4 separate regions of the Homo sapiens genome follow, and all the other regions are linked to region 4. The links come from fine-mapping of genetic effects on gene expression. A gene starts in region 4. Each other region holds a variant in brackets. All regions are shown on one strand. Distances are between the middles of the regions.

Region 1 (4,180 bases), 62 kb before region 4:
CGCACCTGCAGGAGGCTGTGACCCATGCAGTGGCAATGCGGCTAGCTGTGTCCATGGCCTGTGGAAATATGCCAGCCCAGCAGAACAGCTGGAATCCTACACTATTAATATGGTTATGTTTTCCAAGCAAGTACTGCTCAATTTATACAAGTTAAATGCACATCTGTGATTTGATAGCACAGCTGAGAACTGTTATAACATCTAACAATTAAATGACAGTAACAGTATATGACAAATTAGGGGAAAGAACCACAACTTCAAAAGGATAGTTTCCTTTTAAGAAGAAACTAACATGAAAAAAGACTGACATCCACCCCAAAAAACAGGCAAATACCACATTAAGTAATTTACCAAAAACAAGAAAAGCAAATGGATAATAAATATATGGAAATATTCAAGCTCACAATTTATCATACATCAAATTCTTCACTTATTAAAACAGCACCAACAGAAAAAGAAATACCTGTGCTTCAGGGATAATGGAAACTCAATGTACTTACTCCCTTTCCTAGATTAGAACAATTTCTTTTCTCAGCTGGACGTGGTGGCTCATGCCTGTAATCCCAGCACTTTGGGAAGCTGAGGCAGGTGGATTGCTTGAGCTCAAACTCCTGAGACCAGCCTGGGCAACATGGTGAAACCCCATCTCTACTAAAAATACAAAAAAACAGCTGAGCATGGTGGTATATGCCTGTGGTCCTGACTGCTTGGGAGGCTGAGGTGGGAGGATCACTGGAGGGTGAGGTGGGAGGATCACTTGAGCCTGGGGGACAGAGGTTGCAGTAAGCCGACATCATACCCCTGCACTCCAGCCTGGGTGACAGAGCAAGACCCTGTCTCAAAAACAAACTCCAAAAAAATTTTTTTTCATGAACAATCTAGAAATATATTTAAAAGCCTTAAAATATGTTTGACTCATGATGTTGGCTGTACTACCAGTGGTTGTAAGGAGACGGCCACATTGTTGTGTGACGATGCTTATCATAGTTATTGATGCTAACGGCGAGACACTCAGGAACCCCAATATGTTGTGATGAAAAAGCCTGTTCCATCTGGGTGATTCTGTGGAGCTAATAAAAGCCAAGTTTCCAAATAACATTTAGGATATGGTTCTACGTTTCTAAAAAAAGGCAGGGTCGGGACGGGGGGCGTTGTGAAGTAACAGTGGTATACGGGACATTTATGGTCTTATGAAAAACTAACATATATTCGCAGAGGCCCCAGGTATTTGCATCGCCTCAGGAGAAACTATAATTTGACAAATAAATGCATTCTTGGCCATTTGTGTCAGTTCACAGAAGTGGGGCTGAAAAATCCAGAATCTTTTTTTAGTCCTATTTATAACGCCATAAAAGTATACTTTTATTATTATGCTTAAAGGAAAAAGTAGAAATGATTTGCTTGGGCTCCTTGACCCTATTCAAAAATGGAAATATACAACAATACGTTTCTATCCTATGCCTGCTGAGGGGATTTTTCATACTCTTTTCAGCATGCACAATAATCTTTGGGTGGTGGGACTGATTTTCTAATTTTCTAAAATGGACATGCGTTATTTTAAAAACGAAGCAATCTTTTAAGGATTTAAGTATCAAAATCACTAACATTTCTCAGTAGGATGCAAAACTGATGAAGTTTAAATCAATAGATAAACATGATTTATTACTTTGTCTATTAAAGTAGTTTCAACACAATTGAAGTTTAGACTGCACTGGGCTGTTCCCATCACAGTCCAGGATTATGCACAGACCAGCCCCCAACCCCAGCAGGGGTGCCCTGCCAGAACCTGTGCTGGATGCCTAGGAGCACAGAGACCACTGCCCGTTGTTGGGCTGCGTGTGCACA[C/A]TTCATACCCCGATCCATAATCCCTAAGACAAGAATGGCTGTCATTGCCCTGGGTTCACTTTCTATTCAAAGAGGACTCATTTGGGCACAGCCAATGTAGTAGTTAAAATGCATTTTGAGAAAAAATAAATATTCTGTACAATGTATTTACAAGGATCAAATGTTTTGTAACCCACCCCCAATTAGTTTCCCAATTGGGAAACTATAATTTGATAATTAAGAAGCATATTATTGGCCGTTAGTGTCACGTCAACAAAGAATGTGGAGCTGACCACCTAAAGTATTTTTGAACTATATATATAGAGAGAGAGAGTACGCAAAATTTCACATTTTAATATGCTTAGAAGGAGTTTTTAAAGAAGTAGAAATGATTTCCTTGGCCTCTGACTTTCAGTGATGAAAATGCAACCATGCAGTCCCCCCTTTGCAGAAGGGCAGTTCTTCCCAGGCTTTCTGGAAGCAGGGGCTTCCGAGGAGTCTCCACCCACCTCACAGAACACTCACTATGAGCCCTGCACAGACAGCAGGATTCACAATCTCCAATAGGGATGGCAGGGGCAGCCCTTAAAACTTGAAGAGGTCGATGAAGTGCTGCGGAGACACAGGCGTGAAGCAGCTGTCAGGGTCGGCCGCCGTGCAGGGGTGTCCTGAGTCCTGTGGGGAGGTGGGAGATGGTTAGGAGGGGGCCCCACCACCAGCCACACTCTAGTGATGGTGCTTGAGGGGTCGTCAGCTGCTTGTTGATGTGGACCCTGGGCCCCACCTCAGAGGTACATGGGAGATAACTTGGATGAGAATGACCAACACAAGGGCAGCCGCAGCCGATTCTACATAGAGGTTTCCCATGGAACTCCTGCTCAGGTAGGGCAGGAGACGGTGGCCCCAGGTCTGCCCTCCAGTGCCGAATCTGGTACTGAGTCAGAGGAGCCAGCTGCTGACACCACCCTGCACTGCCCCGGAATCTACAAGGCCACAGAAGAAACCACTGGGGACTTTCTGTCCTCTGGTCCCAGCCATTCCTTTGTCCTGTCCTCCTGTTCCTGGCTCACTTTGTTACACAGGGTTCCCTCCACCCGCCATTCATCCCTGAATCAGCTTGGGCTCCCTGCATAGGACAGGAGAGGGGGACACACGGCCTCAGCCCCCAAGGCTCCTGCTTGCTCCAAGGGAGCTGGCCATGCTCACATACCTAAGGATCCAGAATTATATTTAATATGAGAAGTGACGACAGAAAAATTAATTTTGTGGATGAAGACTGGCAGACTCTTAGGAGGAACGCAGGTAAACGGGACCAGAGGCTCTGGGGTCAGTGCTGGATCTCTCCATGGCATGCCCTGGCAGTGCTGCCAAACCAGGTGCTGTGTGGTGAAGTGTTTATGCGCACATCTAGCAGCCTCCCTCAGCACTCAGGTGTTGTTCTGCAAAATATTTCATCAACACTCTCGTCCTTGCTGAGGTGTTTGATCAAAGTGGCCACTCAGCCCTGCTCAGGGTCCTGAGAAAGCTCAAGTCAGCGAGAGCTGGAATCGAGCCGGGCAGTGGCCAAGATGACGTGCATGAGATGCAGCACGATGCAACGTTTTCATCCCGAACACAGGATGTGTGGCAAGACAGGGAAGTACCTTGAATAGTAAAGCAAGATGGTAGTCCTTCGAGATCATGAAGAAAGAATCAGGAAGGAATGCAGTGAAGGGAGGGAAAAAAAGGAAAAGTTAAGATTAGAAAGAGCCAGAGTGTATCTAAGCATTCAGGTTTGATTCATATTATTTACGAAAATAACTAAAAACATCAGGTAACTAAATTTGGACAGTACAAGGTTATTAAAAGCAAACAAGTTCTCATCAGATAACCCAAAAATTCCCAAACTACTTGAAGACAGTCTTAAGACAACATATCTCTACCTTTAAGTCTTTCAAATTTGGCAACTAATGAGGCTGCAGTGCTAAATAACCTTTAAAATTATTCACTGAAGAAGAGATGCTATTTCCATGTGCAGTTTATATTAAAACTTTATAACAGATTTTTTTGGGGAAAGTTCTTTGTTCTTCATTTAACATCCGAAGGCTCTGCTCTGTGCTCAGTAATGCACATTAAGTCAATTCCACACATGCCCTTAAGCCAGCCTCCACCTCTGACACTTGTTCCTCCAGGCCAGTGAATGCCACTTTCCAACACAGACCCAAGCCTCAGCAGCTGCCCTCCTGTGCTGTTCTCCCCCGCTGGTTCAGGATGCTACTAGCAAAGCGGTTCCCCTGCAAGACCAGGACCACCAGACCATGGACACCTCATCTTGGATTCTGGCTCCAACTTTGCTCCTGATGTCCACACAGGCCTG
Region 2 (4,219 bases), 59 kb after region 4:
CCTACCTACCTGCTTTCCTATCTACCTACCTACCTGTGTACCTGACTATCTACCTACCTACCTGCCTGCCTTCTTATTTACCTACCTACTTACCTGCCTGCCTATCTACCTACTTACCTCCCTGCCTGCCATCTAGCCACCTACCTACCTACTTACCTATCTACCTGCCTACCATCTAGCCACCTACCTATCTACCTGCTACCTACTTATCTACCTGCTTACATATCTAGCCACCTACCTATATACCCACCTAGCTAACTACCTATCTACCTACCTGCCTACCTGCCTATCTACCTCCCTACCTGCCTATCTATCTACCTATCTACCTACTTATGTACCTACCTGCCTACCTATCTACCTACCTACCTGCCTACGTGCCTGCCTACTTGCCTGCTTACTTATCTGTCTACCCATCTAGCCACCTACCTATCCACCTGCCTACCTACTTACTTACCTATCTACCTGCCTACCTAATTAGTAAAATAGAATTCAGTTTATTTTATTTCTGAATGGCTAACCACATATCCCCAAACTACTGAGCCATCCGTTGCCCCTCCAGTGATTAGAACTGATGTTTTATCTCGTACTCAATTCCTTCATGCACTTGGGAGTGTTTCTTTGATGCCTGTTAACTGAATCCATTCAGAGATCCTAGGCCATCCCTAAATCCACATGGGATGCTTCGCTGGAGGCCATGTCCTTACTCACAGCTTCCCCCTCCTTTGCCCCATCATGGCCCTTCCTCTGCTGGGCTCCCTGCAGCTCATGAAGAAGCCGCCCCTGCAGGTTGGGTCTTCCCTCCATGGGCTCTGCATAGCTTCTCTCTGTCCCTGTCCCATCCAGCCTCAGGCATCAGGGCAGAGGCCTCCGAGCCTGGAGGATGTGGACGGAGGGGCCGGTGCCCTCGTGGCTCCCTGCTAGGACCCCTTGTCGCAGTCCCGGCTCAGTGCTCCGGAGGAACGTCCCTCGTGGCCTCTCCAGGTGATGTCGTCTTGTGGGTTCTGTTGTATGGAGGCGCCTGTGGCTTAGTGAGGGCCACAGGACACCTCCTCTCTCTGGCCTTGTGTGAGGTTGGTGCCCTGACCTGGGAAGACCAGCACCCACTGGTCTGGGTCCTCCAGGCACCGCGTCCCCACGCTTCTGCTCTGCGTCTGACTCATGTGGGAAAACATAGTTCTCTCAACCCTCTTCCCTAAAATGACATATCTCTCCAAAGCCTTCTGGCTCCTTCTGCAAATGGATTTCTGACAAACCCAGAATTGTCTTCAATCGACACTGAGCAGGCTTCAAGCCCAAGCTGGATCCCTCCCCTCCTTTGGTCTGCACATTGCAGACACACTACAAAACGCATATCTCAGAGAAGTTGACATAATGCAATATATTTGCACACACTGAATTCTCCATGATAGTGCTTAAAGTTTTCATGATATGAATTTGGCATCATGATTATTGGCAATGCTCAAAATGGATGTTTCATTTCAGATTGTACCATACAGATCGGTGACTGAAAGTGTCTCATTCAGTGCAGTGGTGGGACTGAGCTAAGCAAAGGAGAGTTAAGAGGACTATGTGTCCAAATTGGAACAATTGTGTGGATCAAAGGAAAGGTGTCCTAGTTCAAGCTGTGGAGACATTAAAAATGGAACACACAGAAGCTCTCCTACTAAAATTATATTTAAATTATTAATACATTATTAAACCGAATTAACACATTATGATTACACTTGGATTTTAAACAGATAAAGAAAAGTTTTAAATGTCTCATGGCTACAACTTAATGTAGCTAGGACCACACTTCACGCATAGCTCCTGAACTCTGCCCAGTGTTTTTTCCTGGAAATATATTACCTCTGTATCACTCTCATCTAGTGATAATAAAAATAACTAGAATTATTTGATAAGAGATTAGTGTGTTGGA[G/C]TCTGATAAATTAATGTTAACACACTCTGGTAAATTTGAAATAACGATTTTGTTCCTAGGAAGCTGTATTGAGAAACTGTTGAATGAAGCACTTCCTTCATTGTATCCCACGGAACACCAGCCCCATGAAATGCTTTGGGGAAAAACGTGAAAGGCCCTTGTGGCCGGGGACACCTGGTGACTGCCTACTGAGTGTCCTCATGGGTCCCTGCACATGAACACAGCGGATGCCTTCAGAAGTCCTGAAATAGTGTTATCTCACTCGGCGGTACCCAAACTCAACTGACTGTAGAAAATATTGCTTTAATATCTATTAAGCATCTATAAATTAATATTTTTAAAATCCCACTTTTATCAAGTCTGCTTCATCTTCTAAGTCTGCAGGAATGAGAGAGACCGACACCAGCTCGAGCTCCAGGCGACCCCACATTCACAGACTTCATTAGCGCTGGTCCCTGGGCTGGGCTCTGGGTTCAATTCCTCCTGATGAGATTGGCAGACACAAACTGACTTTATTCAGACAGGTTTTGTATGTAGGCACTGCTTTTTTAGGCATAATTGTGATTACTACTTTTCACATTTTAAATCTTGGTTTTCATATGGAATCAGTGATGTGTATTGTCATGTACGTGAAAGAACAGGCACAGATGTTTGTTTTGGTATTCAAGTTTTCTGTATTTCTTTCAAATGCTTCAATTTTCAAATATGATCGATAAACATAGGAATTAAAAGAGTAGACAGTGACTCAATAAAAGGACAGTCTTTTTTTTCTTTCTAGAATAATTTTCTAACAGATTTACCAGAATCATATGAATTATATAAGAAATATTTATTTTCATTTTAAAAGATGTCTGGCTATAAAATAGGAAAGCCAAACATGCTTGGCTATATAAACAAAGCGTACTTAGATTCAAATTTGTAACATTTCTTTTAAAGAAGTACCAAGCGAGGCTGTCTGCCTTGAGCCAATGGACTGGAGAATCTGTCCCTCTTCTCTTTTTTCCCCATCATCTCATTCCTCTGAATGCACCCTTGTTTGCCACTGGAGACTTAGTTCTGTTTCTCAGATGGAGTTTCCTCTGGCTCCAGATGCGTCAGGCATGCTTGGCAGGGCTGCGAGGCTCATCCTCCTAGTGGGGAAGGCCGGGCCAGGAGGCAACCAAGCACCCGCCTGTCTCTGATGTTCCCGCATGTTGCTGGCTGTCCAGGGGCCAGGGCTGCTCTCTGGGGCATCACTGTTCTCTTGCCTGAACTTCAGTCAAGAAACTTGTATCAGTCCCGATGTCAACGCACACAGACCGCGTGGTGATGGAGGCAGTTCTCCATAGGAAAGGGTAATCAACACAGCGGATCCGACGGTGGCTGGGTCACAGAGGCACGGGCTGTCTTCAGGCTCCCGCCCGAGGGCCGCCTCGGACGCTCCTCCCCGGGGTGGATTTGCCCCAAGCTCTTGAAGCTGGAGCTCTGAGCCCCTCACCTTCAGGGGCTGTGCCTGTGTTGTTTTGCTGAATTCTTCTTCTTCTTTCTTTGCATTTTATTATGTATTTATTTTTTATTTGTATAAATGTAGGGGGTGCAAGTGCAGTTACTTGCACATATTGCACAGCGATGAAGTCTCCGGTGTCACCATCACGCAAATAATGAACATTCTACCCTTAAGTAATCCTCCCCCTCACCTCCCCACCCTCCTCCCCTTCTGAGCCTCCAATGACTGTTATTCCATGCTCTGCGTCTCCAGGCTCACATTATCTAACTGGCACGCAAGAGTGAGGACGTGTGAATTCTTAAAGAGGCTCCTGCCCTGGCTCAGCCCCCAGCCCCACAGAGCCTGGATCCACCCTCTTCCCAGCTCTGCGACTGCCTGTGGTGAGGGAGACCCACAGTTCCCTTCCAGGCGGTTCGGTTCTGTGAATTCCCTAAACAACTCCACGTCTTCCGTCTTCCGGGAGAGAGTGTGTTATCGTGCCCCTGGAATCCACGCACAGCTCATTTATCAGCTACTGCTGAAACCCTGTCCTGTGAGGCTCAAACCCAAGCTGCAGATGACCTGGTGGAATGTGAGCCTCGGCTGTGGGGTGATTTCACTTAATTTCTCCTTAAATTGAAAGATTTCACTATCACCCACCAGCAACGGGCAGCACCTAAAGTAGGTCATCCATGCGGAGGACACTGGTGATCAAGACAAACTTGATCTGGGATGTAAGATAAAGCTCCTTGCCGCTACCACTTTCTGTCTGGCACACTGAAGGAGGATAATTAGATTTGCAGAGATTTGACGACTTGATAGAAAATACCAGCCCC
Region 3 (4,000 bases), 47 kb before region 4:
AAAACAAAACAAAAAGATAACGTGCAAGTAAATTAACCCCTAACTAAAAGTCTAACACTCTCACAAGAATTATGTCTTCCAGGTGCTTCATTCTAATTCCTACTGAGAAAAATTTCTGTAGCAGACAGTAGTTTACAAATATTCTGCTGCTAAAATTACAAACTTTAAAGGTAGCATGAAGTGGTGGTATGAAGGTAGTACGAAGAAAAAAAATCCCGGATTAGTAGAGTTATAGAGTCTGGTGTGACAACTCAGCATTTGGGATTTCTGGCAGAGTCCAGTTTTACATCCCTGTTAATGGCTATAACAAGAGGGTGTCGCAGAAATGCCAGCACTTCTCATCCAAACGAAATCTCGAAATGTGACAAGGCACAAAAGTCTTGCTGAACATGTCAGAAATCCTGCTGCGTTTTTTGCTGCACTTCCTCCACTGATTAGCTACATGCTCTCTGCCATCATGAAATCTCTCACACCTACACTGCACTGGAAGGAAGAAACGATGCTGCTGCTTCTCTTGCTTTAGGATAGTCTCAGCTATTGCATGCAACTGTCAATGATTCCCACTTCTCTGTGGAAGCACTTCTGCTAACAGAAACTTGTGTTGCTATTATCATTCTATTTTACACAGAAAAAAAACAGAGATACAGATGAGTTGACTGGCTTGCCCAAGATCGAGGTCCAGCCTCGAGCCCAGTCTGCCTGGCCCCAAGTCCGTGTTCCCAACTGCTCTGCCCTTCTCCATGGGAGGCCCATCCCCTCAATATGTGGTGAGTCACTGAAGTCTCCCTCAATTCTTCCTTCCCTCGCACCCACTTCAAAGTCACCAGTCTACTCTTTTGCTCAAGTATCCCCAAGTTCATTCTTCCCATTTCACTGTCACTGCTCATGAATGCAATGAGGGTTTACTTCCCTCCAACCTGGCTGGTCCCTGCCTGGCACTGAAGGGGACCTCTAAACAAGGACCTTTCAATGACCCTTGGCAGAGAGCAGCAAAGGCTCTGCAATGCCCACAAAGCCCTGAGTCTGGTCCTAATCCCCTGCACCTTCCTCCAAGCAGTCCACACATTTGGCATAACACACTTTATTAGCCCCTGGATGCGGAAGTTCCCATACCTTCTCACAGGAGTCAATTCTGCAACTTCTGGGAATTTCGTTAGCCAGTTTACTTTTTGTTGGTGGCTTGAAGTCAGTCATAGTGGGAAGCTGACAAAGGCTACAAATCAAACCTCTTGCCCCTGGAGAGCCAGTTGTTAAGCACTGACCAGGAGGCCATCACCTGGATACTCTCCCCTCATTCTTTGTTTTCTTTTTCTTTTTCTTTTTTTGAGATGGAGTCTCCCTCTGTCACCCAGGCTGGAGTGCAGTGGTGTGATCTCAGTTCACTGCAACCTCTGCTTCCTGGGTTCAAGCAATTCTCCTGCCTCAGCCTCCCAAGTAGCTGGGACCACAGGCACGTCCCACCACGCCCGGCTAATTTTTTGTATTTTTAGTAGAGATGGGATTTCACCGTGTTAGCCAGCATGGTCTCTATCTCTTGACCTTGTGATCTGCCCACCTCGGCCTCCCAAAGTGCTGGGACTACTGGCGTGAGCCATCGCGCCCGGCCCATTCTTTAAGCTCCACCTAAAACATCACATCACTTGTGAACCAATGTAATGTCAACAGCCCTGTGTGCATATCTGTTATAACACCCCACTGAGTTCTGTGACACATCATGTGCTCATCTCCCTGGGTCCCTCGGAGGCCCCATGCTAAAGGCTACGCCTGCTGATCCATGTGTCCCACCTCATGATGGGCCCAGCGAGCACATGGGGGCATCTAGGAAGTGCTGACGGGGTGAGGAAGCATGTGAACACATACCTGTGTGCCTGCTCTCACTGAGTCACAGAGATGTGCACATGAAAGCACTTCCAATTCATTAGCACTGCCATATCTTCAAATGCAGCTTAAACAGCAAAGTATATTTGTTTCACAAGAAAAAAAATTTCTGATGTTCTTAGGAACTTTACAACACAAATATATACTAAATTTCTGCTTACTTTTGGGACTATGAGTATTTAGATTTAAGGGGTGTCGAGGTATTTCTTTTTTGAGACGGAGTTTCACTCTTGTCGCCCACGCTGGAGTGCAATGGCACGATCTCGGCTCACTGCAACCTCCACCTCCCGGGTTCAAGCAAATCCCCTGCCTTAGCCTCCCGAGTAGCTGTGACTACAGGTACCTGCCACCACACCTGGCCAATTTTTGTATTTTTAGTAAAGACAGCGTTTCACCATGCTGGCCAGGCTGGTCTCGAACTCCTGACCTCAGGTGATCCACCTGACT[T/C]GGCCTCCCAAAGTGGCTGGGATTACAGGTGTGGGCCACCGCGCCCGGCCAGGGGTGTCAAGGTATTTCTTGTTGGGATAATCTAGAAGACAAAGACAACTGTCAGCTCACTGGAGAAAGCTGGCCCTATATCCTGAGGCTGACATGGCGGAACTTCAGGCGGTGTGCTTGGACTTCCACTCTCAGGGATCCGGGAAGGCTCTCAGCTGCTCTGTTCTAACCCCATCTGCTTGAGTCACCTCAAAATTCACGTGAATAAGCGGGAGGCAGCAATCCAGCATCAGCCAGCAGGTCAGGAGACCAGGTCTTTACCTTAAGCAGCCTTAGACCAATTTGGCTGACTGAGTCCGGCATCTACAAATGCAGCTCAGTTAACTGAGCTGGTAAAGTGCTCTTTCTACTGGTTTCAAGTAACATTCCCAGAAAGGTAAAACTCCTCTGGCCAACTCCTACAAGGGAACCTGACCCTCCTCGAGGCTAGAAGCAGGGCACAGGGTCCAGAAGCCAAGATCCTCACAGAGGCACATGCCAAGCTGCGTGCTCCAGAGAGCACCCAGGGACTCAGGTGAAGAGATGCCAGGCAGCATGCAACCACTAATGAAAGAGAAGAAACAAGTTCAAGGTCTCTGATGGTAAGATTTGAGTGGACATGACGAAAACTGGCACCTTTGTGTTATCATCAGCGCTTTCTTATTCCCCAAAGATTAAACATTAATTTCATTTTTGTACCTTATTTTTCCCACTTGATCAAAATGGCACTACAGTAACACCTATCCTTCTGTGCTGAGGCAGAGAGGTATTGCCACGTAAGTGTGCTCTGCCTACCAGGGCTGTAAGAACCATCCCGGGCCAAAAGCAGAGTGTCTTCCTTCACTGGCTATGGTCAGCACTGAGTGGGGCAAGCTGGGGCCACATGCACTATTATCCCTCAGCCCGTGCCTCTCCCAGGTAGTATGAATGGAAAGAAGATCCAGAAGGAAGCTCAGCATACAGCCATGCCTTCCTGCTCTGTCTCGGCCCACCCAGTCAAAGATGCAAGCTTGTCCCTTGCTTTCTCCTTTCTCTCCTCTTGGTGAGGTGTGGCCCAATCCTTGGAGCTTCGCTGTTGTCTCCACCGGTGCACATCTCTCCACTGGCTCCACATCTCTCTCCAAAGAATGCAGAGCCACTAATCCTACCTGGAACTTCCCAGCCAGACAAGAAAGGCTGCTTCCTGGTCTGGTGTTTGGCCTTTCCCAAACACCCCCTTCCTTGGGATCCTGACCATGAAAACCCACCATGGACAAGGACACACCCTATTCTCTCCCCAGAAGGTCACCTGCTGAACATCACTACCACGGATCTGCCTCATCAGGAGAAAGGGGACTTTGGCCATGTGGCCTCGCCACTCATGTTAGGACTTCTACAGCAAGCCCCATGCCATGCATAAGTGTCTTACAGATGGACTTTTAGCACAACCCACCTATGCATGGGGAACGCAGTAAAAGAGGCAGCGAAGAGCCAGCCTGTGCAAAGCTTTGAATGACTGTAGGGTCACACCAAGACAACAACAGAACAAAGAATCCAACGTTTATAACAAACTTGCTTAACTCTTACTGACGCTGAATGTTACATTATTAAGGATAATTTCAGACTCATAACTAGGCAATCATCACTCTTTTTGTAAATCCCATAT
Region 4 (4,219 bases):
TTAAAGCATAATCTATACAGCTCATGAACTAAAGCACAAACTCTGGATGCAGATTAAAAACAACACCACCAACAAAAAAAGACAAGTTGCAATTTAAAACGTCTGGGGTCTGGATCTCAAGTTTTCAAAAATACTCCCAAACTGAGGCTTCTGAGTTTGCAAATCAGAAAACAATGCTACTAAAGTTTTATAGAATGATGATGACCCACGGCTTTCAATGGGAATGTATTTGTTCAGCTAAAAAATGTGAATTGCTAGAGCTTTATACGCTTATTTTAATTAAAATTACCTTTATTTTGGGAATTTACAAACACAAAAAAACTAGAAATTACTCCTGAAAATTATTAAACTTTTAAGAGCAAGCACTCAAAGGGTGTAGCTTGTATAATTTGCAAATTTTAAGCACATTTTATGCCAACTTATTTCAGACAGCCTACAATGATTAACTATTTAAAATCTTCCCTTAATTTCTATTTCATGTGGTAGGACACGTGGGTGGGATACTTCAGTAGAAAAGGACTTCATGAAGTTCATTTGCTGGTGGAAACTCTTGGCATGAGAGACTCAGAACAAAAAAAAATGTCTTTCCTTCAACAAGCATATTTTTTCTTAACAATAATAATGGCAAACATTTATTAGAGCTTACCATAGGCTACGCATTACTCTAAACAATCTACATATGTTGTCTCATTTAATCCTCACACTGTCCTCCAAGGTAGAAAACATTATTCTTGTTTTACAAGTTTCATTATGTATTTTAAAGATGAAGACACTGAGGCAAAGAGTTCAGTGGAGCTGGGATTCAAAATGATGGAGTCTCACTCCAGGATCCATGCTCCTAACCACTATGTTTATAATAGCAGTTCCTGAAAACCCTATTAAAACAGATGCCATTAAATTATAAGCTTTTTAACTTTTTTTTTTTTTACCGTCTATTACAGATCACTAATATGATTTCAAGTAATGATGAACCTAAATACAAAGGCACTAAAACAAGGAATACAACACAGGAAAGAAAACTCCAATCCATCTTAAAAGACCACATGTGTTTCCCTATTTGTTTTGCTTATAAGTGTGGACAAATTTGATCCAGAAAGGACATTTTAAAAAATGGCAAACTGAGGGCTGAGAGTCAGAAATAAGTTGTACTCTAAGGACTTACAGATAATCACAGATTCCTCATGGGAAAGGTAAACACGTAAAGACGAGGAGAAAACAGAATATGAAAGAGTAAACGTCTTTTCTGATTAGGGCCGGATGGTAAGGATTTGGAGGCAGCAAGAGACAGCTTCATAAGGGAAGAAATGGTTCTCTAGATTCTTTAGTCTTCAAAATGAGTTTGAATAGGCCCAAGGACAGAGGTGGAATCTAATTGAGAAAAAGGTCAAATTGAGCTTACTGTGAGGGGAAGGATGCAAAATTAGTGTCTGCTGCAAGAAAAATAAGCATGGAAAGAAATTAAGGGAGGAGACAGAGACAGAGCCAGAGCCACAGACCAGGAGTAGGGAAAAAAAGGTAAGCAGCAGACGGGGCAGAGTGGCCTGGAGGAATGAGGGGTCACACCTAGCAGGTGCCCACCGGCGAAGAGGCAAGGACCGAGCCCGGAGGGCAAACGCCGGCAGGAGTCGTCCCCGAAACACCTTGCCCAGCGAGGCGGACACAAGCTCGGGCCTGCAAGACGGCCCAGGAGGGTGGGGGCGGGAAGGGGTCGCAGAAGGTGGGCAGGGGAAGCGGCTGAGGACGCGCGGTGCACCTGTGGGCGGCCCCCGTGCCCACCCGACTCGCCCGCAGCTCCCTGAATGAACCCTCCACACCCGCCGGCCGCCCCCAGACCCCACCTGACGCGCCCGCGGCCCATCGTCCCTACCTGACGCGCCCGCGGACCCAGACTTCAGCAGACGCGCACGCGGCAATCCCGTCCCCACCTGACGCGCCCGCGACAACCCCGTCCCCACCTGACGCGCCCGAGGCCCCCGGTCCCCACCTGACCCTCCCACAGGCCCCGTCCCCACCTGACGCGCTCGCGACCCCATGTCTTCCCCTGACGCGCCCGCCGCCCCCGGTCTTCACCTGACTCGCCCGTGGCCCGTCGTCCCCACCTGACGCGCCCGCGAGCCCCAATCTTCACCTAACGCGCCTGCGGCGCCAAGTCTTCACCTGACGCGCCCGCTGCACCCCGCACCTACCTAGCGCGCCTGCGGCCCCCAGTCTTCACCTGACGCGCCCGCGTCCCCCAGTGCCCAACGGGCGCGCCGGCCACCTGGGCCCGCACCTGACGGCGACCAGGCGGTTATTGCCGGAAGTGGGCCGCCGCCTCCCGGCGCGCCTCAGGGAAGCCCCGCCCCTGGCCATGCTGATTGGCCGGCGCGGATCCGCGTGGCAATGTTGCTGCCTGGTCCTGTCGCCCGCAGCGTGCGCCTGCGTAGTAGGCACTGCCCCTCCGTCCGCGCGCGTCCAGAGTGCCGGGCGTGGAGGCGTGGGGGCGTGGGGGCGTGGGGTGGGGCTCGGGTGCGCAGGGACGGGCGCGGTCAGTGCCTGAGATCCCTGCGATCGCTGGGAGATGACGGTGAAGACCTGAGATTTAGGCCTGCGCGGCGGGTGACGACGCCGGTCCGGGTCTTCACGGGAGGACGCTGGCCGGGGCCTTCAGGTGTTCTCGTGGCCTGAGGACGCGCGTCCCTGAGAATGTGCGTGCCCGCGCCGCGCGGGTCCCACAGGAGCCTGGGCAGCCCCGCCGCCGCATTTCCACCCTGCGGCCGTATTTCCACCCGCTGGGCGCCAAGCCCGGGATGACTGCACTCTAGGGCATCACTGCGCGCTCACACTCAGCATTCGGGCACAAGCACGTTCTCTTTATAAACAGTTTCGAATCTTGTCGAATCTTTCTAGAAGGTTGAAATGCCCTGGAGGAGCAGCGTGAATAGTTTTTTCCAATTAGGAAAAAAGAATGTGGGGCGGCTGGAGGGAGAGAGGCAGGCCGAGAAGGCCAGGTGGGTCCAGGAGCCGCAGCCCCCGTGCCTCAGTTTCCGCCTAGAAACATGGAGGTGGCGGTGCACGCTACAGGATTTCCATAAGAACAAATGAGTTAGCGTGTGCAAAACATTTAAAACAGTGTCTGGTGTGTAGCAAGCAAATATGAGTATTAGTCTTTTCCTTGTTAAAATGTGTGCATCTACATGTGGTGCACATTACAGGAAGTGTATAGTATGGATTCATATTTTGGAAAAGTAATTTTAGAAGTTATTTCTGAAGTGCTTATTATAATAGTGTTTCTTGACCACATGCTTTTAAATAATGTGAAGGCAATGAAGTAGGCAATATTGCTTGCACATCCCCAATTTAAACACCTGTCTGTCCCTCCTTCCCTCTCTCCGTTCTTTTCTTCCTTTCCCTCTCTCTTTATTCCTTCCTTCATTCCCTTCAAGGTTGCGGATTATTCTATTATATAAATGTATCAATTTATTAGAATAGTTTCTATGATGTCTATGATAGGTTTTAAATTGTTTGCAATAGTTTGCCATTATAAATAATGCCCAGTAGCGCTGTGGTCTGATTTAACTTGTGAAGGTATATTTCCAAATAAATCGCTATGATTGGATTGTTGTGTAAAGCAAAAAGTGTCTGAGGCAGATCACAACTGATTTAGAGGTTTATTCTGCCAAAATCGTGGACGTGTCTGGGGAAAAAGAAACACAGGTTACAGTAGGATTTTTGGCCTGTACTTTTTTCCAAATATTTAAGGGAAAAGCGCCGGTAGGAGGGGAAAGAGGGGAGAGTAGGCTATGAGGCAAGTGGTCACATTTTTGTGAGGCTCTGATTAGAGTACAGCAAATCTACATTTCACATGTGAAAAGAAAGGTATGGGGGAGGGTTATGCATCTGTCTCATACTCAGTAGATCTACATTTCACATAAGATAAAGTAAGCTTTTGGGAACAAAAAGAAGACTGCGTGTGTGTGTGTGTGTGTGTGTGTGTGTGTGTGTGTGTGTTTTGCCAATATTAACTTTTCCCTTTGGCATAGTAAGTTTGGAGGCCTGAAATTTTATTTTTCTTTCACTGATGTGTCAAGGTTAACTGCATATGGAATACTAGTAGAAATTGCCAAGCCAAGACCCCACCACCACAATGGGGGACATAGTAATATTAAATTTAGCCCAATTGGCTAGCATCCTCACAATTCCTAGTGAAAGAATTCCTGGATGGATGGTAAAGAGGTAA

Direction of the effects. Alleles are on the strand shown, and positions count from the first base shown. SD is a standard deviation of normalised expression in the study named. Not every link is listed here.
As copies of A replace C in region 1, the expression in unexposed skin of the gene that starts at base 2,295 in region 4 goes down (small effect, 0.27 SD a copy in GTEx).
As copies of T replace C in region 3, the expression in fibroblasts of the gene that starts at base 2,295 in region 4 goes up (small effect, 0.20 SD a copy in GTEx).

The links. PIP is the estimated chance that this variant, and not a neighbour inherited with it, causes the effect. A credible set is the group of variants that fine-mapping cannot tell apart.
Region 1: its variant is the best candidate, but not a certain one, in a credible set for the expression of FBXO25 in unexposed skin (GTEx, PIP 0.78).
Region 2: its variant is the best candidate, but not a certain one, in a credible set for the expression of FBXO25 in whole blood (TOPMed, PIP 0.67).
Region 3: its variant is the best candidate, but not a certain one, in a credible set for the expression of FBXO25 in fibroblasts (GTEx, PIP 0.63).

Annotation. Positions count from the first base shown.
Region 1 is chr8:467,034-471,213 of GRCh38, reverse strand. It overlaps FBXO25 (F-box protein 25), which reads right to left. Exons shown (of 10, transcript NM_183420.2): 10 at 1-2,499. The coding sequence ends at 2,410. Among named protein-coding and RNA genes, the nearest start is that of FBXO25, 62 kb to the right of the region's middle. The variant C/A (reference allele first, on the strand shown) is at 1,846.
Region 2 is chr8:346,438-350,656 of GRCh38, reverse strand. No RefSeq gene overlaps it. Among named protein-coding and RNA genes, the nearest start is that of FAM87A, 35 kb to the left of the region's middle. RefSeq lists an enhancer at 397-930. The variant G/C (reference allele first, on the strand shown) is at 1,919.
Region 3 is chr8:452,216-456,215 of GRCh38, reverse strand. The region is part of intron 7 of FBXO25 (F-box protein 25); the gene reads right to left. Among named protein-coding and RNA genes, the nearest start is that of FBXO25, 47 kb to the right of the region's middle. The variant T/C (reference allele first, on the strand shown) is at 2,326.
Region 4 is chr8:405,034-409,252 of GRCh38, reverse strand. It overlaps FBXO25 (F-box protein 25), which reads right to left and starts at 2,295. Exons shown (of 10, transcript NM_183420.2): 1 at 2,187-2,295. RefSeq lists a silencer at 2,163-2,572.